Linked DNA regions of Homo sapiens. The protein of the gene in region 1 binds, or shares a complex with, the protein of each later gene. Each region holds a gene or a part of one and is shown on either strand. Other genes may lie near its edges.

Region 1 (8,496 bases):
CCTGGAACTGCTTAATAAGCCCCAAATGGCCTACCTCTAGATTCTTCCATGGGCAAGAATGAATCCTGAGTGTTTAAGCCACTGCCATTTTGGGTCATCTGTTAAAGGCGGCTCATCCTGACCCTGACTTACACAGGAGGAGTTATTTAGCAGGAAACAGGAGAGTTCCTGCCCTGGGAGGTTTCTTACCCATGGCGATGGCCGTCTTCCCCGTGCCCGGCTGGCCAGCAATAAGGACTGCCCGACCGGCAATCTTCCCTTCCCGGATCATCTCCAGCACCACGCCAGCCGCCCGCCGTGCCGCCAGCTGACCCACCATGCCTTGCGAAGCCTGTGGGTGGGAGGCGCACATGAGGTGATTTCCTGTGGGGCTACCATGGCATTTCTACCACATCAGGAAGCTAGTGAGATGGAAGCAGACATTACTAGCTGGGACTTCTAGGAAAAGCCAAAAAAGCTTTCCCTGCTTTTTTTTTTTTTTTTTTTTTTTTTGAGACAAGATCTCGCTCTGTCACCCAGGCTGAAGTACAGTGGTACAATCATGGCTCACTGTAGCCTTGACCTCTAGGGATCAAGAGATCCTTCCACCTCAGCCTCTTGAGTAGCTGGGACCACAAATGTGCACCACCATGTCCAGCTAATTTTTAAAATTTTTTGTAGAAAGGAGGTGTCACTATGTTACCCAGGCTGGCCTCAAGCTCTTAGGCTCAAGCAATCTTCCCATCTCAGCCTCCCAAAGTATTGGGATTACAAGTGTGAGCCATTGCACCCAGTCTAACTTTTTTTTAAGGTGGCAAAGCAATTGCTACCCACTCCCAATTCTTTTTTTTTTTTTCCGAGATGTCACCCAGGCTGGAGGGCAGTGGCACAATCTCGGCTCATTGCAACCTCCACCTCCCAGGTTCAAGCAATTCTCCTGCCTTAGGCTCTTGAGTAGCTGGAATTACAGGCATGCACCACCATGCCCGGCTAATTTTTGTATTTTTAGTAGAGACAGGGTTTCACCATGTTGGTCAGGCTGGTCTTGACTCTGACTTCAGGTGATCCACCCACCTTGGCCTCCCAAAGTGCTGAGATTACAGGCATGAGCCACCACACCTAGCCTAATCAATTCTTTAGTACCAAGAAAACCCACATGTGGTTGAAGTTTATGGGTATGTAGCCAAAGGTCCAGAAGACCGTAACATAGTCCCCACACTCCCCAGGACCCTGGGTACCCACTACCCAAGACCTTCATGGAGAGGCCCTCACACCCCAGCCTCCTCTGCTCTACCTGCCGAGGCTCCAAGGCATCGTCCAGCCCCAGTCCCCGGATGTGGGAGTGGGCACCTACATGAAGGGAAAGAACAAAGACTCAGTTACTAGCCAGCTTGCTGCACATGTGGCCTGACCCCTCTGAGCCCTGGTTTCCTTCTTTGTCAAAGGGGTGGGTGGGAGTAGGGAGCAGGGGTTGGGGGAATGAAGGGGCACATGGAAAGGATATCCCAAATTGGCACCTCCCTAGGAAGATGGCTGAATGTGGTAAATGCTCAATGAACTGGAGCTGCTCTGAGGATGCATCCTAGTTAAACAAAAGTCACTGAGGCCTGATTAAGCACATAATTGTACTAAGATCTAACCACAAGGGCTAATGATCACAATTACTTCATGTTTATGGTTTACACAGCACCCACATGTTCTCAGTTTATTCCATATGATCCTGCAAAAAAAGAGCCCTGGCTGGGGCCGGGCGCAGTGGCTCCTGCCTATAATCCCAGCACTTTGGGAGGCCGAGGCGGGCGGATCACTGGAGGTCAGGAGTTCGAGACCAGCCTGGCCAACATGGTGAAACCCTGTCTCTACTAAAAATACAAAAATTAGCTGGGCATGGTGGCAGATGACTGTAATCCCAGCTTCTCAGGAGGCTGAGGCAGGAGAATTGCTTGAACCTGGGAGGCGGAGGTTGCAGTGAGCCAAGATTGTGCCACTGCATTCTAGCCTGGATGACAGAGCAAGACCTGTCTCAGTAAAACAAAATAAAATGAAACAAGAGCCCTGGCTGCTATCACCCTGAAAGCACTTCTGAGTATCAAAATGGCAACAGTCCCAGAACCTATTGATATGAATGGGGAGGGAGCTCAGAGAGGTTAGGTCCCATGCCCCAGCCACACAGCCAGCGAGAGGGGAAGATGGGATTCCCATGCTTTACATTAGATGAGGGTTGAGCAAACCTCAGCCTGGAGGCCAGCCACCTGTTTTTGCAAATAAAATTTTATTGGAGCTGGGTACGGTGGCTCACGCTTATAATCCCAGCACTTCGGGAGGCAGAGGCAAGCAGATCACCTGAGGTCAGGAGTTCGAGACTAGCCTGGCCAACATGGTGAAACCCCGTCTCTACTAAAAAATACAAAAATTAGCCTGGCGTGGTGGCATGCACCTGTAGTCTCAGATACTCGGGAGGCTGAGGCATGAGAGTCACTTAAACCAGGGAGGTGGAGGTTGCAGTGAACTGAGATCGCCCCACTGCACTCCAGCCTGGGCAACACAGTGAGACTCCATCTCAAAAAAAAAACAACAAAAAACCAACCAAAAAATCTTTGTATTGGAACACTGCCATTTATATACTGTCTGTGGCTGCCTTCGCACTGCAAGAGGAGAGTTGAGTAGTTTCAACAGAGGAAGGATTTACCATCTGACCCTTTAAGAAAGATTTGCTAGGGTCCAGGCGTGGTGGCTCACGCCTGTAATCCCAGCATTTTGGGAGGCCGAGGCAGGCGGATCACGAGGTCAGGAGATAGACACCATCCTGGCTAACACAGTGAAACCACGTCTCTACTAAAAATATAAAAAATTAGACGGCCGTGGTGTCAGGCGCCTGTAGTCCCAGCTACTCGGAAGGCTGACAGGAGAATGGTGTGAACCCGGGAGGTGGAGCTTGCAGTGAGCCAAGATTGCGCCACTGCACTCCAGCCTGGGGGACAGAATGAGACTCCGTCTCAAAAAAAAAAATAAAATAAAATAAGGAAAGATTTGCTGACCCCAGTGCTTGACTGTGAGCACCCCAAGGGAGGCTCCTGGGTGCAGCTAGTCTCTACTGGGTCCTCAGCTCACAAGCGGTGCTTGGCTCTTCATCCTTTTTTTTTTTTTTTAATTTTTTATTGTTTTTTGGCCAGGCGCGGTGGCTCATGCCTGTAATTCCAGCACTTTGGGAGGCCGAGGCGGGCGGATCACGAGGTCAGGAGATCGAGACCATCCTGGCTAACACGGGGAAACTCCATCTCTACTAAAAACGCAAAAAAATTAGCCGGGCATGGTGGCGGGCGCCTGTAGTCCCAGCTACTCGGGAGGCTGAGGCAGGAGAATGGCGTGAACCCGGGAGGCAGAGCTTGCAGTGAGCCGAGATTGCGCCACTGCACTCCAGCCTGGGCGACAGAGCGAGACTCCGTCTCCAAAAAAAAAAAAAAATGTTTTTATTTTTATTTTTTGAGAGAGCGTCTCACTCTGTCACCCAGGCTGGAGTGCATGGTGCAGTCACATCTCACCACATCCTGAACCTCCTTGGTTCAAGCAGTTCTCCCAAGTAGCTGGGACTCAGGCATGGACCACCACTGCCGGCTAATTTTTTTATTTTTTTTTTAGAGACAGGATCACACTATGTGACTCAGGCTGGTCTTGAACTCCTGATTCAAGCAATCCTCCTGACTCCACCTCTCAAAGTGCTAGGATTACAGGCGTGACCCATCATGCCCGGCCATACTTGGCACTTTTTGTTTGTTTTTGAGATGGAGTCACTCTGTCACCCAAGCTGGAGTGCAGTGGCACGATATTGGCTCACTGCAACCTCTGCCTCCCAGGTTCAAGCCATCCTCCCTAGTAGCTGGGACTATAGGCATGCACCACCATGCCTGGCTAATTTTTGTATTTTTAGTAGAGACAGGGTTTCACCATGTTGGCCAAGCTGGTCTCAAACTCCTGACTTCAGGTGATCCACCCGCCTCGGCCTCCCAAAGTGCTGGGATTACAGGCGTGAGCTACAGCACCCAGTCTCGGCACTTTTATTTATTTATTTATTGAGAGACAGAGTTTCACTCTTGTCACCCAGGCTGGAGTGCAATGGCATGATCTTGGCTCACTGCAACCTCCACCTCCTCGTTCAAGCAATTTTCCTGCCTCAGCCTCCCGAGTAGCTGGGATTACAGGCACGCGCCACCACGCCCAGCAAATTTTTGTATTTTTAGTAGAGACGAGGTTTCACCATGTTGGCCAGGCTGGTCTCAAATTCCTGACCTCAGGTGATCCGCCCACCTTGGCCTTCCAAAGTGCTGGAATTACAGGCATGAGCCACTGCACCCAGTGCCCCAGCACTTTTAATAGATGAAACAGTGTTGGCACACAGACCCAAAATGCTTTATATGAACTACCTTACTGAATCTTACATTAACTGATGAGGTAAACTATCTTAGCTTCGTCTTGCAGATAAGGAAACTGAGGCACAGAGAGGAACTAGTCCCTGGCCACATGGTGGGAAAGTGGCAGAGCTAAGCTCCAGGAATCCAGCACTGGGCTTCTAAAACCCATCTTCACAGCCAGAAGCCCTTACTGCCTTTCTCGGATGCCCTGAATCAGTGAGCCTGCTGCATGAATGAATGCGGTCACTTCCCTGCCGGTAAAGCTCTTTGTGAGAGCGCACCCTGCTGGCCTCACTGCGTCTCAACTTCCTGCTCTGTGTGAGCCGGGGCCAGTGATTTAGCTGTCCTGAAAATCAGTTCCCTCAGCTAACAGTTACAATATGCACCTCATGCGGCTACTGCGAGGGCTCCACAGGACGCAAACTCGTGCATTCAATGGTTATCTCTTGATCATCTGCTCTGTTAGGTCCTGTGCTAGGGACACAGCTAGGAATGACACGACCTCGTCCCTGCCCTCAGGGAACTCACCCCACAGTGTGTACTGGGTATACGAGGCCAAACCCAGTAAAGCACCCAGTAAATATCTATGACTTCCAGGCAAACATACCCGGGAACCCCACCAGGATAGCCAGGATAGCAGCCTGGTCCCCAGTGCATCATCTGACCCAACTCTGGAACTGAGGATCCTCCTCCCCCATTAGATAGGGCGAGTGGGGGAATGGTAGTGGGGGCACAGTTGGTGTGCAGGCCACCTCCCTCTCCATCTTAGGGGTCCTCAATAGGTTTGCTCTGTCAGGGCACATGGCAGGCAGGGCTTAGGTCCTATTCCTGACCCAACTCACTCACCGATTCGCTCAATCCTTGTTACATCACGGATCTCCGGGACTTTGGTTGTGGCTGTCTGGGGGTGCAAGAAGATGTGTCAGAGGACTAGTGTGGTCCCAGCTTTCACCAACCCCTCCTCTGTCCCTCCCATGAGATGGTCCTTTCCACTCCTTCCCCTCACAGGCAGGCGATGGGACAGGCACCAGTCACCCCCACCCCTCTTGCCTGTCACTGCCTAATGGCTGGTTGGTTGAGCCCCAGGAAGACAAGGACTGTCTGTCTCATCGACAGCTTGGTCCTCAGGGTCCAGCACATATTTGGTTATTTGGTGAATGAATGAAATCCTCCCTGTTTCTTTTTTTTTTTTTGAGATGAAGTCTCGCTCTGTCACCCAGGCTGGAGTGCAGTGGCCCAATCTCGGCTCACTGCAACCTCCGCCTCCTGGGTTCAAGAAATTCTCTGCCTCAGCCTCCTGACTAGCTGGGATTACAGGCGCGCATCAACACACCCGGCTAATTTTTGTATTTTTAGTAGAGATGGGGTTTTGCCATGTTGGCCAGGCTGGTCTCAAACTCCTGGCCTCAAGTGATACACCAGCCTTGGCCTCCCAGAGTGCTGGGATTATGGGCGTGAGCCACTGTGCCCGGCTAAGTCCTCCCCATTTCTTTTTTTTTTTTCTTATTTTTTGAGACGGAGTCTGCTCTGTCGCCCAGGTTGGAGTGCAGTGGCCCGATCTCAGCTCATTGCAACCTCCGCCTCCTGGGTTTAACCGATTCTCCCGCCTCAGCCTCCTGAGTAGCTGGGACTACAGGCGCACACCACCACACTTGGCTAATTTTTTTTGTATTTTTAATAGAGATGGGGTTTCGCCCATCTCTACTGGGGTTGGCCAGGCTGGTCTCGAACTCCTGACCTCAAGTGATCTGCCCACCAAGGCCTCCCAAAGTGCTGGGATTACAGGTGTGAACCACCGTGCCCAGACAAGTCCTCCCCATTTCTAATAACTGTGAGCTCCATAAGGACAGACACCAATGAGGAGCAGGCATGGAGCTGGACATGCTCTGGCCCCTGCTAATTTCCCAGCATCCCTTGTACCAGGCGGCCCCAGTTCTCAACCACCAGGCCTTGCACATGCTGGCCCCTGAGTCCAGACTGCTCTCCCTGCCCTCTCACTGAATTAGATCAAGTGCTGCCCCCTAGGGGAGGCCCTTTCTGTCCAACAGCCCTGCCAGGCTAGTTCTAGGACCTCTAGACATTCAGACAGATGAAAGGCCTCCCTGGGAGCCCGATCTCCCTGTGTGATCTCACATTCCCGAGGGAGATGGATGGATCAATATTCTCTGCTCCAGTGGACATGAGTCCCATGAAGGGCACGGCCTGTTCTCTCTTGTTCACCTCGGGACTCAATGTCTGTGGTTTGCTAAGTGATACTCTAAAGTGCTGAGCTCATTCAACAAGAATATACCGAGGCTTCCCATGTTGACAGTTCTCCACAGAGAGGAGCCAGCTACCACCCCTTCTCACATGGGGGAGGGAGGTGAGTAAACACCACCCGGGACAATTCAGGACCCCCCCAGAGGTCCACACAAAACATGGACACGAGTGTTCACGGCAGCACTATTCACAACAGCCAAAAGATAGAAACAACCCACATGTCCATCAGCTGATGAATGGCAAAATAAAACAGGGTCTATTTGTGCAAAGGAATATTATTCAGTCATAAAAAGGAATGGAGTTCTTTTTTCTTTTCTTTTTTTTTTTTTTTTGAGACATAGTCTCACTCTGTCACCTAGGCTGGAGTGCAATGGCGCAATCTTGGCTCACTACAACCTCTGCTTCCTGGGTTCAAGTGATTCTTCTGCCTCAGCCTCCCGAGTAGCTGGGATTACAGGTGTCCGCCACCACACCTGGCTAATATTTTTTTGTATTTTTTAGTAGAGATGGGGTTTCACCATGTTGGCCAGGCTGGTCTTGAACTCCTGACCTCAGGTGATCCACCTGCCTTGGCACCCCAAAGCGTTGGGGTTATAGGCGTGAGCCACCGCGCCCGGCCAGGAATGGAGTTCTGATACATGCTACAACGTGGATGAACTTTGAAAACATTATACTGACTGAAAGAAGCCACACACGAAAGACACATATGGTATGATTCCATCTATATGAAGTAGCCACAATAGGCAAATCCATATACAGAGAAAGATTAGTGGCTGCCTAGAACTGAAGATGGGAGGTATGGAAGGATTAGCGGTGACAGGTAAGAGGCATGGGGTTTCTTTTTGGGGTGACGACAATGTTCTAAAATTGACTGTGGAAATGGCTGCACAAGTCTGTGAATATACTAGAAAACACTGAGCTGTATACTTTAAATGGGTGAATTATGTAGTACGTGAATTCTATCTCAATAAAGCTATTAAGAAAAAAAAAAAACAACAGGCTGGGCGTAGTGGCTCCCACCTGTAATACCAGCACTTTGGGAGGCTGAAGCAGGCAAATCACTTGAGGTCAGGGGTTCGAGACCAGCCTGGCCAACATGGTGAAACCCTGTCTCTACTAAAAATACAAAAATTAGGTCAGGCACGGTGGCTCACGCCCGTAATCCCAGCACTTTGGGAGGTCAAGGCAGGTGGATCACTTGAGGTCAGGAGTTCGAGACTAGCCTGGCCAACATGGTGAAACCCAGTCTACACTAAAAATACAAAAAATTAGCCAGGCGTGGTGGCAGGTGCCTGTAATCCCAGGTACTTGGGAGGCTGAGGCAGGAGAATTGCTTGAACCCAGGAGGCGGAGGTTGTAGCGAGCAGAGATCGCGCCACTGCACTCCAGCCTGGGCATCAGAGCAAGACTCTATCACTAACACACACACACACACACACACACACACACACACACACAGATACAAAAATTAGCTGGGCGTGGTGACGCGCACCTGTAGTCCCAGCTACTCAGGAGGCTGAGGCAGGAGGATCATTTGAACATGGGAGAGAGGCAGAGGCTGCAGGGAGCCAAGATCACACCACTGCACTCCAGCCTGGGAGACAGAGTGAGACTCTGTCTTGAAAAAAAGAAAAAACAAAAAAACAATCCTGGATGGTGGATCTTTGCATGTCTGTTACATTATTTTCTGACACTTTGGAATAGTTCATAATTTCTAATAAGGAAAAGGAAGCCTAAGAAGCTAGCATGCTAACCGAGGCCACCCATCCCCAGGTCTCCTTCCTTCCCACAGGTTTGTGTTTTTTTTTTTGAGATAAGATCTCATTTTGTCCCCCAGGCTGGACTGCTG
Region 2 (8,496 bases), about 19 Mb from region 1:
ACTTTCCAAAACCATATTTAACTACTAGAAAGTGATTTACAAAAACATGTTTCTCTACTCTAGAGCTCTATTCTATTGTAGTATAAGTATTCCCATTAATATTTTAAGTTATAACTAATTATAAAGATTTTTTTCACTGAAATATGAAAATCAATGTGAACAAACTTCAACAGGCTATGGATTCATTTCATAACATCAGAGCTACTTCAGTATATAAAGAGAGGCTTCGTCTTCAGTAAGGTCTTTAAGAAAAAAGTATGCCCATTCTCTTTCGCTAATATACATGACAAAAATAATGCAGCAAAGCCAAAAGATTTATCATTGCCAGAAATTACATACAGGCCTAACAATAAGATTCTGATTAGTGTCACAAAAGATCAAAATATATATCAATTATAAACTTATAGGAGTTGATTTGCAATTAGAGTCTCCAAATATAGTTCCCAGAATTTCACTGAGTAAATGAGTTCTCTAGTACTCATTCATGTATAAGTGAAATCAAGTTCAGCTTTAGAAAACTCAGCTGTTTTCTGTTTAGTATGACCTTATTTATAAAAAAGGATCTTCCCATCATTTATTTTCAAATACACATTTAACTAAAAGGTTAAAAAGCAGGTAGGGCGGATATTATACTCTCAATCTAAATACGTATTACAGAAATAACAACAGATTATAAACTGAACCTAATTTTAAAATATAACTAAGCTAGAACCCAAGCTAGCTCATCCAACTGCAAAATGTGTAGTGTGTGTTGTGTGTGTGTATGTAGGCTTCTATACACCTACAGATAATAGCACGGATAAACAAAACTCAAGAGCTGCCCTAATAAAGGGATGCAGAGAACTCAAACAACTGAAAAAGGATAAGGGTGCTGTTTTAGGTAGCACCTTTTCACACCTGGTCTCCTCTATCAAATGAAAATATGGTTTTTTTTCCAAACCAAAAAGCATTTTTAAGAATTGTCTACTTATGTAAACAGGTATTTCTCTTAGTTCACTAAGGAGAAAACACATTATTTCTGTGTACTAAAGTATTAAGTGCAAAAATAAGTCTATAATAGCAACTAAAAAAAAATTATAAGGTATAAAATGACTCCAATTTTTATGTCTTCCCAACTTCTAACTACAAAATCACATAATGACTTTGAAACTTTGTAACTTCTGAAAACATGCCAATGTAGGTGACATTTCCAACCCGGATGCTCCATTCTCCAGCTCATTCTCAAATGTTGGTTCTACTCAAACTACCTACAATTCAACAGAATCACAAACAGCCTGGATTCATAGATCACGGAAGGTACTTTTGGTAAGAAACAGCCCTTCAGCTTGGCAATCTGTGAATGGATACATATACAACAAAGAAACATCATTTAAAATGGGTACCTACGTTCTTTCCGGTGCTCAACTAAACCTACAGCCTGCTTTGCTGAGCACTTTGCAAACCAGTTGTCCCCCAGTAAAACAGTGACTTCATTAGTATGGACAAGTTTTCCTGGCATGAAGGCAAAAGGGCCAAATGGTACCTATTGTTTAAAAAAAAAGAAAAAAGGGAAAAAACATAAAACACTGAAAAGTACATTTTATAAAACACTTCGCATTAAAAGCCTTACATAACTGAATTTTTTTATTTATACATTGGGAAAAATAAAATGCCAGCTTCACAGAAATTCAACACTATATTAAAATTTTACTAGGAAAATCTAAAGAAAATTGCTTTATGTTCATAAATCAATGTTAAAACAGGAAAATAAATCCACACCATATTTACATATAGCTCTTAAAGAAAGTAGTACTGTCTCGGCATGTTTATACTTTTCATTCACTTGCAAATCTAAGTGAAAGCAACTAGTAGTGAAACATTGTCAATGCAAAATACTTTTGATAAAGAAAACTAAAAATTATTTTCAATAAAGTAGACACTTTTGCAAAGCAGGAATTAGTAAACAAATAGCTTTAATGGATCTATCTAGCTATATATACAAAATACTTGGACTAGTATAAAAGAACAAAGTCTTCATAAGAAAGAACATTCATGCAATGAAAGGCTCTAATCCAGGGCTCATGAACAGATCACTATGTCGATGTGAAGATCATTAAAACAAAAATTAGCAGCACGTTTTTATATAAAAATCAATGTCCTAAGGTTTAATTCTGTGAATTACAAAACATTATGGCCTATTCCTGCTCTGGCTAACAAGAAACGACTTAGTACCATATTTCTGTCATAATTACATTTTTTATATAGTAAGTTTCCATTTGAAATATGTCCAATTTTGTGCTAATATTTATGTCATTTGTGTCACCATATATATTCTGAAAAAAAAAGGTAAATACCAACAATTACTACAATTACTGTGTTCTTATAAAGTAAAACAAAACAAATCTTCCTTGCTACATAGTTACCTTGGACACAGTCCATCAGCCTGACATTCTGTGAACCGACACATAGTTAATATGTTTACAAGAAACAACTATTACTTTAAAAGAAACACACCAAACATACCATTATATTATAAGACAATTTATCAGGCAAGGTGCTGAGTCTTTCTCGAAGGGCATTATAGTCATTATCTACCTTCTTCCTGTTGACAGAAAACACCAAATACACACATTATTAACGATTTTTCTTTTTTTTTTTTTTTTTTTTTTTTTTTTTTTTTTTTTTTTTTTTTTTTTTTTTTTTTTGAGACAGAGTGTCGCTCCGTCGCCCAGGCTAAAGTGCAGTGGCGTGATCTCGGCTCACTGCACCCTCCACCTCCCGGGTTCAAGCAATTCTCCTGCCTCAGCCTCCTGAGTAGCTGGGATTACAAGTGTGCGCCACCATGCAAGGCTAGTTTTTGTATTTTCAGTAGAGAGGAGGTTTCACCATGTTGGTCAGGCTGGTCTTGAACTCCTGACCTCATGATCCTCCCACTTCAGCCTCCTGAAGTGCTAGAGTTACAGGCGTGAGCCACTGCACCTGGCCTCACTCAAAAGCTTTATTAAATCTCTTCTTTCAGTCGTGTGTGGTGGCTCACGCCTGTAATCCCAGCAATTTGGGAGGCCCAGTAGGCCAGGTATCATAAAACAAGCTAATCAAAAACATAATTTTAGCAAATTCAAGATTAATGTGGTTTTATTTTTAGTTTTAAAATCCTGTTTTTATACAGTTTAGCAATGGCATTATTCTACCATACATTTATTGAAGAATTAAGACTCTTCAGGGACTCTGGCATTTAGAAGCAGAATACTCAAATTTTGAGAATTACTGTTTTTTAAGATACAAGACTATCTGGACCAAATAAAATGTGAAAATTAAGGGAGACAGTAAAAGAGGGCCTGATATTTGGAGAGAAGAAGGGACTCAAGATGAAAAAAGAAGAGATTTATTTATTTTAAGACAGAGTCTCTCTCTGTTGCCCAGGCTGGAGTGCAGTGGCACAATCTCAGCTCACTGCAACCTCCACCTCCTGGGTTCAAGTGATTCCCCTGCCTTAGCCTCCTGAGTAGCTGAGACTACAGACGCATGACACCACGCCCAGCTAATTTTTGTATCTTCCATAGAGATTAGGTTTCTTCGCCACGTTGGCCAGGCTGGTCTCGAACTCCTGGCTTCAAGCGATCCCCCCACCGCAGCCTCCCAAAGTGCTGGGATTACAGGCATGAGCCACCACACCCGGCCGAAAGAAGAGATTTAATAAAGCTTTTGAGTGAATAGATACTGGCTGTGAAGTTGAAATCATGAACATGAAATTTGATCAGATGCTTTAGTCCTCATCAGAAAACCTTAGGCTGAAAAATGCATCATCAGCTCTTCAATTATTCATAATAATGTGATTAAGGTAAGAGAGAATCAACTGGGGGTAGAAGAAATTAAGTAGAGATAATACAAAAGGCGTTTCAATTTGGCCTAGGAGTCTGTTTCTTGTTACATCAAACAGAGCTACCAAATAAGTAATTTCAAACAACCAAAAGGTATATGTAACTCTGTAGGGGCAGAGATGATCGTATTTCCATGCTATGGGCCTTACTCAGCTCTTAACACCTGCTGGAAATGAACAGCCCTTCTTTTTGAGTAATACCAGGCAGCAGCCTATGCCAAGATGCCCGTCAAACTTTCTCTGGAGACTGGGTTTCCAAAGGGTTCCCTGCTAAGATACAGGCTGCAAGCAAAACTACAGCACTGAATTTTTTTTAAGCAGAAGGATGTTGTCAGTTTTTAAAAATAACAGAAACAAAAATTCACCAACTCAGCAAGTAATTTAAAAGAACATGTAGACATTGTCAAATTGAAATCAGGATAAACTGCAATGTAGGTAACAACTCTCCAGATAATATAAATGACAAACATCACAGAATTGGTTTCAGCTTACTGCTTAGTTCCCTGAAGCAACAGTAGCATAATTAATAAAAAAAAATTAGCTCAGTCTTAAGATCTTAAGGAATTTCACATATATATTATTTTACATAACCTATAATAAATGTCACTTATCAGTATTTTTCTCTTACAGAAGACAAAGTAGAAGGAAGATGGAAAAACCACATAGCAAGAAGCCAGATCTCCTCTATCAAGATGAGGTAAGCAATGAGTTTAACCTAGCTAGGTCTTCTGACCTGCATTCCTTCATGAAAGCTTTCTCATTTTCTAGTGTGCAACTGCTTTATAACTTTCCCCAAAAAAAATCCTTTTCTATAAATAAATACGAAACATGTTTTATTCTTTTGTTTAAGGCAAAAATCCTCCTCCTGGAAAATTTTTATATGGATAAAATGGCAAAAAAACTTCATGCACAAGGCTATGTACCAGAAAGAACATGGCTTTGAAGTCAGACCAGAGAGTGAATCCCAAGCTCTACATGCAATTTACACAAATTCACCTTAGTCTTAGTAACTTCAATGGCAAAATTGGACTAATACTTATCTCACAGGTTCAACAGAATTAAATATAAAAGGTCTAACACACTGCCCAGCATGGAGCAACTACTATTTTGGTTCCAAAACTCAAAACTCATTTTTTTCATGAAGCATCAAAAAACATCAATTCCAAAACTTTCAAGAAAGACTATTACCTACAAGATTTCACTAACCAATTTGATACAAATAGTATAACTTGCTGAAAGACAGTACAGCTGAATGTAACCATTCAGGGGCTTTGGAAACAGGACTGGTGTGAGCAATCAATGGGAGAATGTCTCCATAGGACTGACTGGTACAGTGCCTAGACAGTCAACACTCACTATTAATAACATAACACTAACAGCTTATTTATGTTTCAGATAAGTAATTCTGCAAATGCTCAAGGACTAAATACACCAGCCTAGATATCTAAATATTTCTATGAATATTAAGAAGCTAGTATTAAAGTCACCATTCAATAAGTCTTATTTTGGTAACAATGCTTAGGAGAAAAAAAAACAACTTCCTCACAAAAAACATCTATTTTGTACATTAAAAGAACAGTACGTTCAAAAACAGGCAATACCAGAGATCAATGTCAATATTTCAAGTCAAATATAATCAGTTTTCAACTTATTAATAATTCTCTCTGGAATAAAAATGCGGACATACTGGAGAGCAGTTTAAGATTAGAGTTGCTATTTATAAATTTTGAATTATTTTCTAAAAATACAAAAGTAGAAGATCACTTAAAATGCAGCCCATGTAGAAATCCTTTATGAAGGGAGGCCAGGAGGAGTCAAGCAATGTCTCTGGAAGAAACTACAGCTTGAGGAACCCTCTCTCTCTAAAGGCTACATTCGTGGAAATGTTCAGGGCTTAGTCAAACAGTGATCTCCAAATAGTATCTCTATTATTTCAGGCTTAAATAATCCTGTTAAAGATCACAAAGCCTATGCAACAGAAAATGCAAAAGTTATGCTAAGAACTAATGCATTACTGAGGTTAAGTCTGGGGTCTTTATTTATAACAAAATTTGAACAGATTTTTTTTTCTATTTTAATAATTAGAAACGTAATTAATTTTTGGACACAGGAGTCATTACAGTAATCAAAAATGGTAATTGCTTAAAATAATTTTTCTTCAAATGGAAAACAAAACCCAGATAGAGTTAAGAAACACCTCTCCAGCCTACTTACTTAGAATAGCTAGACCTGCTTCTTTGGCTTCAACATAATGGATCCTTATAGATCAGGTTCCGCCTTCAACTCTTAATTTTAAATTTTTTTCCAATATCCTCATGCAACATTCCTTATACAAAACAAGAACTAAAAGCATAGGTATAAGGCATGTAAGAAACTTTAACCACTTCCTTCTGAATCTTGCTAATCATGTGCAATATGCCTTTTGAGAGTACCTTTTGTTTTAAGGAAATTAAAAAAAAAAAATAGGCAGCAGCGATGAAGACCATTAACACAACCACAAGTTAGCCCTTACCCTTAAAGGATTAAGATCAAGACAGAACCTATGGGAAACAGCTCATTTGCATAAAATTGTAGAAAGTAAGAGAGAAATCAAGTTAAATGAGGGATATGCTCAAGTATTTAGGGGTGAAATACACAGATGTCCACAACTTAATTTGAAATTCATCAGAAAAAAATGGATTAACGGATTAGGGTACAGACAGATAGGTGATCAAGATTCACTCTTCCATATGTTTGAAATTTGTCATAATAGAATATTTTTAAAGGGACGAGGAAATATGAAAGGGATCAACATTTTTAATCCTCTTAAAAGTGACTGACAAAAATAAAAATCTCTATTAAAAAAAAAAAGTCTACATCCTTTGAGGCCAGTGATAAAGACTCCAACCTTTAAATAATAAAAAAGGGAGATAAAATTTAAATCAGGTTGAAACAATAAGACTTTGCTAATTTTACTTTAAAGTAAGAAGTTAAAATAGACAGCAAATACTAACATTGAACTTTTTTTTTTTTTTTTTTTTTTGGAGATGGAGTCTCACTCTTTCACCCAGCCTGGAGTGCCGTGGCGTGATCTCGGCTCACTGCAACCTCCACCTCCCAGGTTCAAGCGATTCTCCTGCCTCAGCCTCCTGAGTAGCTGAGATTATAGGCACGCGCCACCGCACCCGGCTAATTTTTGTATTTTTAGTAGAGACGGGGTTTCACCATGTTGGTCAGGCTGGTCTCGAACCCTGACCTTGTGATCTACCCGCTTCGGCCTCCCAGAGTGCTGGGATTACAGGTGTGAGCCACCATGCCTGGCCCAGTTTTTTTTTTTTTTTTTTTTTTTTTTTAAGAAAAAAAATCTTCTATCACTCTCTTTTCCTCTACCTAACATCCTAAACAGACAAGCAGAAAATACTGTGAGATGCCTAACGGGGAAAGAGGAAAAAAATTTCTATATAAGTGTTAACATCTGAGTTAACCTGGGACAGAGTTAAATTTTTATTTTTTAATTTAAGAAACGATAAAAACGGAAGATTCTGGAATATATACAATATATAACCTTCTTTAGAAATAATTTTTAGTCCATCATACCCACCCTACAACTTCCCATTAAGCATCCAAAAAAGACTTGTTTCAATTGAATCCACCATTTACTGAGCAGCTCCTCTACAACAAGCCTATGGCATATGCTGCAGGGATCATCACTCACACATAGCATGCCTTTCTGATTGTTTGTTGATTGTTTTGCAATGCATCTTTGTCAAAGATCCACTAGCTTGAAGGATGCCTGGCTTTTCACCTCTAAAATCAAGAAAATAGAGGAATATTAAGTTTGGGCATGGATTCTATATAGATAAAGAGATGTCCTCCAGTTACTAAAGCAAGAAATAATGATTTTTTTCAAAGTATCCTTTTAAACAATCTAAACAAATTGATAAAAGTTACATTTTATTTAAAAATTCTTGAAAAAGGGATCTATACTGTTATGCTTTATGCAATTTGGTGGGAAAAGGAACACTCCTCATGGAAAATTTAAATGTACTTGAATTAAATCAATAGCATTACACTTTTTTTCTAAATGGTCATGGCAAAATATTCAGTAATTTCAATTGATATAAGTAACTGAAATGTACCACAAAATTCAGGCAGAATGGTGGTATATTCCTTTTTTATAACTCTATTATACCAAGGAATTTATGTCATCAGAAGATGCTGATGAAATAATCTATGTTCTTTATATTTTATGAGTCCATCAGAAAACTTTACTATTAGACATAGATACCAAGATTAACCCGCATATAAAAACATAATTTTTCAAGTCAATGAAACAAAATTATCTAAAGAGAGATGCAGCTAACATTCTACTAGATTTCTTCAATTTAACTTTTCAACAATGAGAAAACAGTGCAATGGATATATATATATAGTAAGCCTGGACAGAAAAATCTGTTCTACTGTTCTCTCTACAACAACCATACACATGTGTTTGAAGACTTGTCAGTTATCACAGGTGCCTGTTTCTTCACTCATTACTAATCTTTTGCTCTAAGAAAATGAGATGTGAATTCAAAGCAAAAAACCTTTAAAATTATGTAAAAACACATTCATCTACGTTTGAAAGAAATATCCTAAAGTGCCTAGTTAATTTTTAC
Region 3 (8,496 bases), on another chromosome or scaffold:
TCATCTCTGAAGGTTCTCCCTCACTCTTGAGGTGATGACCTCACTCATACCTCATAGAGAAAATACAACCATAGGATAAACTACCTCATCCTGTCATAATCAACTCTTAACGACTGACATGCATCTTTTCTCATTTATCTGCCTTCCTTTCACAAAGGAAAAAAAAAAGTTCCTGTTGGAATTAGTAACCAATATCTCCATTAAATGGATCCAGGAGAGACATAAAATAGTTATTAGGAGTGAAGTCCTTGAGTAGGAGAGAGGATGGGATTATTTCATACTTTTCAAATGAAATAATTCTACAAGTTCTAGTAATTCTTGCTTTTATTTGTAGCTTTAACATTTTAATCTAATTTGATTACCTGGGTTATTTCTATGTCTCTGTTAATTTTTTCCCTAATTATGGGCCATATTTTCCAGCTTCTTTAAATGCCTGATAATTTTTTATTGGATGCTAAACACTGAGCTTTATGTTGCAGGATCTCTAAATATTCCTTTAAACATTTTTGGCCTTTGTTCTGGGACACAATCAAGTTACTTGAAATTTAGTTTGATTCTTTTGAGGCTAGTACTCAATCTTTGTTAGGGCAAGTCCAGAACAGTCTTTAGAACTAATCTGGCCTCGGCCTCACTACTGAGACAATAACCCTTCTGAGGGTTCTACTTGATACGCTGTGTATTGAGGCCTTTCCATTCTGGTTAGTGGGAATGTGTAGCACAGTCTCAGCCCTATGAGCTTCCCAAACTGTTCTTTCTTTCCTCTTGCTTTTCCCTAGACTTGGAAGTTCCTCATGGACAGGATCAGATCAGTTTTCAGCTAGACACTCGAAGGGACACCCTGTGAATATCTGGAGCTCTTTTTCTGTGCAGCCCTGGTACTCTGCTCCAAAGTCACTTAGGCCTCCCCACACTCTGAATTCTGTTTCTTCAACTGAAGGAGCTGCCACATCTGTTTGGAATTTCCCATCCCTGTGCTGCAATCTGAAAACTCTCAAGGCAGTGAAGTGGGTCAATCTAGGGCTCAGCTTCATTTGTTTCCTTCATTTGTGCCTGATGGAACTTTGTAACTAATTTTTAAAAGAAATCATTTGCTGATCTGGGAGCCTCCTCCAGCTACTCCAGCCCTGTTTTTTTCTCTCTTTCATAGCAGAGCTATTCCAAAGAGTTGACTATACTTGCTATGTCCCCTTTTTCATCTTCTATTATTTCTTCTACTCCAGCTGGGCTTTCCTTCTCACCACTCCACCAAAACATGCCAATGGCACATATCTAATTAAATTACTTTCCCATACTTTCATCTTCTCAGTGGACATAGTTAACCAATGTCCTTCCTTCTTGAGATGCTTTTATTCTAAAAATGAAGAAAATCTTTTCAGTAGCTCCTCCTCTGAGTCCCAGAGCACAGCATTCCATGCGATTCATAAGCTGAAGACTCTCAGATTTATAGGACCAACTCATGACTTCCAAATTATACACTTCTAGCACAAACTGCTCTAATGTGCATATTCTCACATATCCAATCAGGACGAAAGAGGCACATTTCAAACTGAACAAGTCCATCCCTTCTACATCCCCCACCCCTAACTGTCCCTTCCCTGTAAGAGGCCCACTCATCTATCCAGCTGCTCAACTTGGAGGTTCATCCTCGGATTCTCTCTCTCCATCTAGTACATTCAAATCCACCAGCAAGTTCTGTTGGTTCTGGCTCCTCAAAATATATCTCAAATCCATCCATTTCTCTTCATTTCCACTAGCACCAACCCTACTTAAAGCCACCATCATCACTCTTGCCCAGTATGACTCATTCTCCACATGGTAGCCAGAATAATCTTGAAAAACCATTAAATCAGATCATGTCACTCCCTTAAACTCGCTAATAGCTTACTTCATTTCAACACAGTCAAAACTTCTCATGGTAGCCTAACAATCCCTTCCTGATCTGGATCGTGAGTACGTATGTGTCCTCATCTCCTAATCTACAACCCCCTGCTCACTCTGCTCTGAGTACAATGGCCTCCTGTTTCAGCTCAGGCTCTGTGCACCTGTAGGTCTCTCTGGATTATTCCTCATGCAGATCTTCCCACGGCTCATTACCACCACTCAAGTTTCAGGCCACATGTTTCCTAACCACCTACCCAAAGAAAATTATCCTTCTCCTTCTAACTAAAATTCTGTAGTATCTTGTTCCACTGCCACATAAGAACATATGGTGGCATCCTCCTGGAGTTTCAGCTACTCAGGAGGCTGAGGTGGGAGGAGCCTGGAGCCCAGGAGGCTGAGGCTGCAATGAGCCGAGATCACACCACTACACTCCAGCCTGGGCAACAGAGGGAGACCTTGTCTCAAAAAAAATAAATAAATAAATAAATAAAATAATAAAAATAATAATAAATTCTGGCTCTAATCTCAAATTCTCATGACAATAAAAGTTATTTTCTGACTACTGCATCCAATTACATCTTTAAATCCTTTAGAGACTGGCTTTTAGAACTTGACCCTTCTTAAACTGGAACCAACTATCCATGCACCTTTACTTCCATGCAAATTATGTCTACATAATATGCAAATGAGATTAACTCAAGATTTAATGACTATTCTCTAAACACATAAAATTCTTTTGGAAACAGATTTAAATATAATGGCAACAGAATATTCTCATTACAACAGGAAACTACCATAGGCCTACTGCATCTTACAGTCAAGAAAACCTGGGGCATGTGGAAGCAGAGCTAGAGGCTAGAGTAAGGCCTTACATCTAGTAACTCCGAGTTTGATGCTTTTTCCTATTAATAATTACCTAAATTAGCTGGGCATGGTGGCACACACCTGTAGCCCCAGCTACTCAGGAGGCTGAGGCACGAGAATCGCTTGAATCTGGGAGGTGGAGGTGGCAATGAGCCGAGATCATGCCACTGCACTCCAGCCTGGGTGACAGAGTGAACTCTCTCTCAATAGTAATAATAATAATAACAACCTAAGTTAAAATACATAGTTTTTCACAATCATATCATACAACTCTCTAAGGACACAAAATACATCTAACACTTTTATGTCACACAATCCCAAATACAAAATATAATGTTAAGTATCTTCTGAGAACAAAAAGCAAGGCCGTTCTAAAAATTCTATTAGTGTTTGGTAATAATGAAATTCATCTGTACATGATTTTTCATACACTGCCTTATTCACTCCTCAGAGCTATTTTGTAAGGTAGCTCAGAAGACTTAAGAAATGCAGAGACTAAAGTTCTTTCAGTGACGTTAAGTGACTTGTCAATGGATACAAAATCAAGGTAGGGAAAGTTTCCTTAGGATACACAATTGCTATTTGGATGCTCAGAGGATATACAATTGCTACATTATCAAAATAGTTCATCCCAATATATAAAAAGATTAGAACCTATATTAAATCATTCACAGGACATTTTAAACCTCAGGTCATGTTTGCCCCTAGATTCACTCTAAGGTCACATCCAATTTCTTCAGTCAGTACTTGCTATACTGAGGGAAATTCAACCAAAACGATTTGCTTAAATAATCTGCTTTGCAATTCAGCAAGTGATTATCACAACACATATCCAAAAACTGAACCAAAACTTTAAAGATAACCTCCATTACAACAAATACTTGAGGGAGGGCTTTATCTTTTAAAAAATTGATTGTATCTGCATTGATCAAAGCTACACCTCAGATAACATATTATAGTAGATGTAATAAGTACAGCAAGTTTGCTTTTGTTTTTCATATACCTATTACAGCAGGGTTGGTAGATGGAATTCACTTCATATATTTAAAGGTGCAAAGTTGAGTGTCCACTATATTTAAAATACTGTAAGAACTCAAAATCACTACCTATTATTACAGGATTTAATACACCTAATCAAGAAAGATTTTCTACAGTTTATAAATGTGTTGAAGGCAACAGTTAGCATCAATAAATTAAAAGCAATTCTAGGGCCAGGTGCAGTGGTTCTCGCCTATAATCTCAGCACTTTGGGAGACCAAGGTGGGTGGATCACTTGAGCCCAAGAGTTTGAGAACAGCCCAGGCAACATGGTGAATATTTAAAAATAAAAATAGAAAAAATTAGGCGTGGTGGTGTGTACCTGTAGTCTCAGCTACTTGTAAGGCTGAGGTGAGAGGACTGCTTGAGCTAGGGAGGTTGAGGCTGCAGCTGCAGTGAGCTATGATCGTGTCACTGCTCTCCAGCCTGGGTGACAGAGCAAGACTTTGACTCAAAAAAAAACCCGCAATTCTAGCAAGTTGTTTAAAACATTTGAATCCCTTGTCTTCTCATTGATTTCTCAGAATTTGGTTTATTCTTACCAAAAAGTTATTGTTATCAATGCAAGTCACACTTCAGTGTTCCAAAAGTCTACTTTAAAAGTAAATACATACTCTAGTTGTCTCTGAAAGTATGTCATACTTTCATATCACTTTTGCCCTTAGACACGCTCAATTCTTTTTATTCCTGAATTACAATATAAAATTCTCATTTCCTTGTGCATCTCTTCTTCTAAGAAGTACAATCACAAATGATACAATTCCATGGTATTATTGCTCCCTTAAAATGCTATCTTCTGCTTTTAACTAACTGCTGTTAACAATTAAGCATCCTTAACTTTTCAAGAAAATTGAGTAATAAATGTAATCAGAAATCACATCTTTACATACATAAAAAGGACTCTTGCCATTACTAAGTGCTTTAAAACATGGACACATGTCTGTGTGTGTGTGTCTGTGTGTGTGTATAGATTCTATGTTTCTACCATTACTACCAGTACATACCATGACACAGTAGAATGCAAAATATAAAACTAAAACCCAGCCATTTTTAACAGGATTGGTTGGTATATTTAATCCTGCCCACACATTCATGAACCTTTATGCAGAATTTTTTCTCTCGTTTACAAAATTTAAGCTACACTGTAGGCAGTACTTTTAATTAAGTCCTATTAACAGAAAAAAATGTAATTCAGTACAAATGCCATTGCTGATCATGAAAAGCACCCACAAAATACCATTAGATACATAAACACATTCAAATGGTATACTGAAACAAAAGTTAATACTAACATTTCAGGTGCATAGGCATGTAAAGTGTTCAAAAGGTCCCTTCTGTATTCAAGAATCCTTAGTCTCTTCCTGGACTGCCTGTCCTTTTTCAATTATCCTCCTTTGACTAAGTCTATTTAGTAACTGCCAAACTGAGATAAAACCAAAATGACTCAGTTTGAAATTTATGGAACAGCTGATCTTAACCCCTGGGCTTTCTGCCCCAGCCCATTACCGATACTTTGAGAAATTGATGACAAGTGTGAACCTTCTCCCTAGAAAAATATATTCTAACATTTTATAGGCATATGGTGGGAATCCATCACTTCCAGAATTATTTCCACATAATCCTCAGAACCCTAGCTTAGCAACTTTATGCAAAAATACCTTTGGACAGTATAGAAAGCTGAAACATTTTATTAATTCTCTTTGATTTTATCTGAAGTAATTGTAATCTAATGCAAAAATCCCCATACTCTCAATTCTTTTCTAATTCAAACTATCTGTAATTAGTTTGTTAAACTTTGCTTCTACTATAATTGAGATTTCATGTATTTCTCTTCACTTCCAAGAGAGTGGATAGAATGGAGAAATCTAGATTGATCTTTACAGCTCCAGATAAAGGGACTAAAAATATTGGTTTAAAATATTAAAGGTTAAAGAAAGAGACTGTTGGTTTCTTTCAAAGTGATTTAAATTTAAACTAGGTTTTTATTACTAAGTTTTGGAAATGGGGTAACCATTTTTTTCTCATATCAAGGATATGTACATATTTCCCATTTCCCCATAATTAAAAACAAACAACTCCCATCCACTTCTTATAAATAGTTCTTAACTTGGGCTTAGTAACAATGTATATTGTGCCAGTAATACAGAAAAGGTGGGAGTATAAAGACCATCCTGTCCTGTTAGAATCCTATAGAACCAAGGTGCTGGATTATGGTGGTTAGATCCTACTTGTAACAGTTTCAAAGGTGACTGTAGGGTAGTATCAATATGAAAACATCATTAACATCTTAATTACACCAAATCTCCTCCCCAAACCAGTCTAGGTAACAGGAGAGGAAAGGTTAAGTTGCCACCCCCTCATAAATGGAACAACGCACCCTAGACAACCCAATGAAAAGTTAAACTACTGTGGAACAGTAGCTCCATTTTGCTAAACATCATTTTAAAATCGACTTTTTAAAAGTGATGTTTCCATAAAGGAGAATTGTTAACAACATAAAGCTCCAATTTTAATCAAGAGTCAATTTTAATAAAAAGATTTGATAGTATTAATCCATTTGGTAAGTTTAACCTTTCAATAGAATGCGAAGCCGTAGCACAAGATTTAAGATTATAAAGATAATTAAATTATAATCTTAAAGTTAACATTGTAAAATATTCATAATAGGACATATGCCCCACACCAACCAAGCACTTGTTTAAACTTTTATCTTTTTTTAAACCCCAAAGGGACTCAATTATCTCAGAGCTGAAAGTCTATTATTTCGCTGTGATTTAAGTCACATCTGTACTTCATTAAATACATTGTTTTCATCATCCGTTACTTTATTTTTAATTAAATTATTTTTTCTGAAACGAGTTTCGCTCTTCTTGCACAGGCTGTGAGTGCAGTGGGGGGATCTCAGCTCTCTGCAACTTCCACCTCCCGGGTTCAAGCGATTCTCCTGCCTCAGCCTCCCGAATAGCTGGGATTACAGGCAGCTGCCACCACGGCTGGCTAATTTTTGTATTTTTAGTAGAGACAGGGTTTCACCATGTTGGCCAGGCTGGTCTCGAACTCCTGACCTCAGGTGATCCACCCGCCTCGGCCTCCCAAAGTGCTGGGATTACAGGCGTGAGCCACCGCATCCTGCCAATCTGTTACTTTCAGACTTAGCAAATTTCGATGCATTACATTCTGCGAATTCACATTTAATCTCTAACATCTTTGACCCAGTCAAATCCTTCAATTTACCACAATCTGAAGTTACTTTTTCAGTACTACTACAATTAAAAAAATAGATAAGTTCAGTAACATTTTCTGCCTCCAAATTATTTTGGGGGGGGGGTGTAAGGGCTTCTACTTAAAGTTGTTTCTTAAAAAGTCTGCCTCGTTAGGCCCGTGTGTGCAGCTCATAGTATTAAAACTGGTTAAATGGGAATACACGAATAATACTTATTTTCCCAATGTTAAAAGACCTGGATTTCTGTCAAGTATATCCAGAAACAACGTAACAATTACTAGGTGTATTTCACATGACAATTCTGCAGATTATTTTGATCAATAAAATGCTTTAATCAGGTGGTGTATAAAAAAACTGCCCTCACCTTTCAGGACCAACATAGGACTACATACTTTTTTTTCTAAGACAGTCAGTTCAGGTTCTAGGTTACAGTGACCTAATAAGATAACAAATAACTAATGTGTCAGTTAAAGGCAGAAGTTTGCTTTAACCCTTCCTCTTTATTAGAAGTACAAAATACTTCCGCACATCAAAAAGTTTGTTTTTCTATGGAGAATCCAGAATTCAATTACCTTTATGTTTAATATACCTTTTCAACACTGCATAACACACTACTTTCAATATTATGATTTACACACCCTACCACTAACAGCATGAACCACAGGACTGTAAAGCAGCTTGTTTACCAGGTACTTTTTACATTCTTCCATTAGGTTCAGTGTCTATTCTTGAGGTCTATGCTTCTCTCCTCATACATAGCTTTGGTTGGATGTGAAGTGAAAAATTCTAAACAGATATTTGGAAAAGGCAATCTGAAGAAAAAAAAAAATCCCTGTGTTTCAAAATTAGGGACTCCACATGTTACAAACTATTGATAGCCACTGCAGTATAAAATGTCAAAATTGGCCGGGCGCGGTGGCTCATGCCTGTAATCCCAGCACTTTGGGAGGTCGAGGCGGGCGGATCACCTGAGGTCAGGAGTTCAAAACCAGTCTGGCCAACATGGCAAAACCCCGTCTCTGTTAAAAGTATAAAAATCGGCCGGGCGCGGTGGCAAGCGCCTATAATCCCAGCTACTGGGGAGGCTGAGGAAGGAGAATCACTTGAACTCGGGAGGCGGAGGGTTGTAGTGAGCCGAGATGCTGCCACTGCACTCCAGCCTGGGCAACAGAGTGAGACTCCATCTCAGAAAAGAAAAGAAGAAAAATCTAAATTATTTCAGCGAATAAAAATTACCCGTAAAATTTAACAAGCACTGATACTTCATTGAGCTCAGCTCTGACTTCAGGTTGTAACTCTTGGGACTGTCCAAAGTATTCACAGAAGCAAGACTTAACTAAAGTCTAAAGTGTACTGTTGTGCTGTCTTGCTTTAATCAAGGCTTTCCCCTTCCTTGGCTGCTGAACAAGAATTACAAATTAATTTCCAGGGCAGGGTAAAACCAACACCCCAATACTTGAAAGTATTATCTGTAAAACTTAGAAATAAAA

Evidence for each region. The genes of interacting proteins can lie anywhere in the genome.
Region 2: RUVBL2 (region 1) and URI1 share a complex: the UniProt entries of both Homo sapiens proteins name them as parts of the PAQosome complex.
Region 3: RUVBL2 (region 1) and EPC1 share a complex: the UniProt entries of both Homo sapiens proteins name them as parts of the nuA4-related complex.

Annotation. Positions count from the first base shown.
Region 1 is NC_000019.10:48,996,112-49,004,607, reverse strand, and holds part of RUVBL2 (ruvB-like 2), read right to left. Parts: intron 5,290-8,496; coding exon 5,235-5,289; intron 1,330-5,234; coding exon 1,274-1,329; intron 402-1,273; exon of another isoform or gene 353-401; coding exon of another isoform or gene 332-352; coding exon 190-331; intron 1-189. UniProt on the Homo sapiens protein: Possesses single-stranded DNA-stimulated ATPase and ATP-dependent DNA helicase (5' to 3') activity; hexamerization is thought to be critical for ATP hydrolysis and adjacent subunits in the ring-like structure contribute to the ATPase activity.
Region 2 is NC_000019.10:29,979,308-29,987,803, reverse strand, and holds part of URI1 (unconventional prefoldin RPB5 interactor 1), read right to left. Parts: intron 7,646-8,496; exon of another isoform or gene 7,554-7,645; intron 2,582-7,553; coding exon 2,503-2,581; intron 1,523-2,502; coding exon 1,387-1,522; intron 1-1,386. UniProt on the Homo sapiens protein: Involved in gene transcription regulation. Acts as a transcriptional repressor in concert with the corepressor UXT to regulate androgen receptor (AR) transcription.
Region 3 is NC_000010.11:32,336,594-32,345,089, forward strand, and holds part of EPC1 (enhancer of polycomb homolog 1), read right to left. Parts: intron 1-8,496. UniProt on the Homo sapiens protein: Component of the NuA4 histone acetyltransferase (HAT) complex, a multiprotein complex involved in transcriptional activation of select genes principally by acetylation of nucleosomal histones H4 and H2A.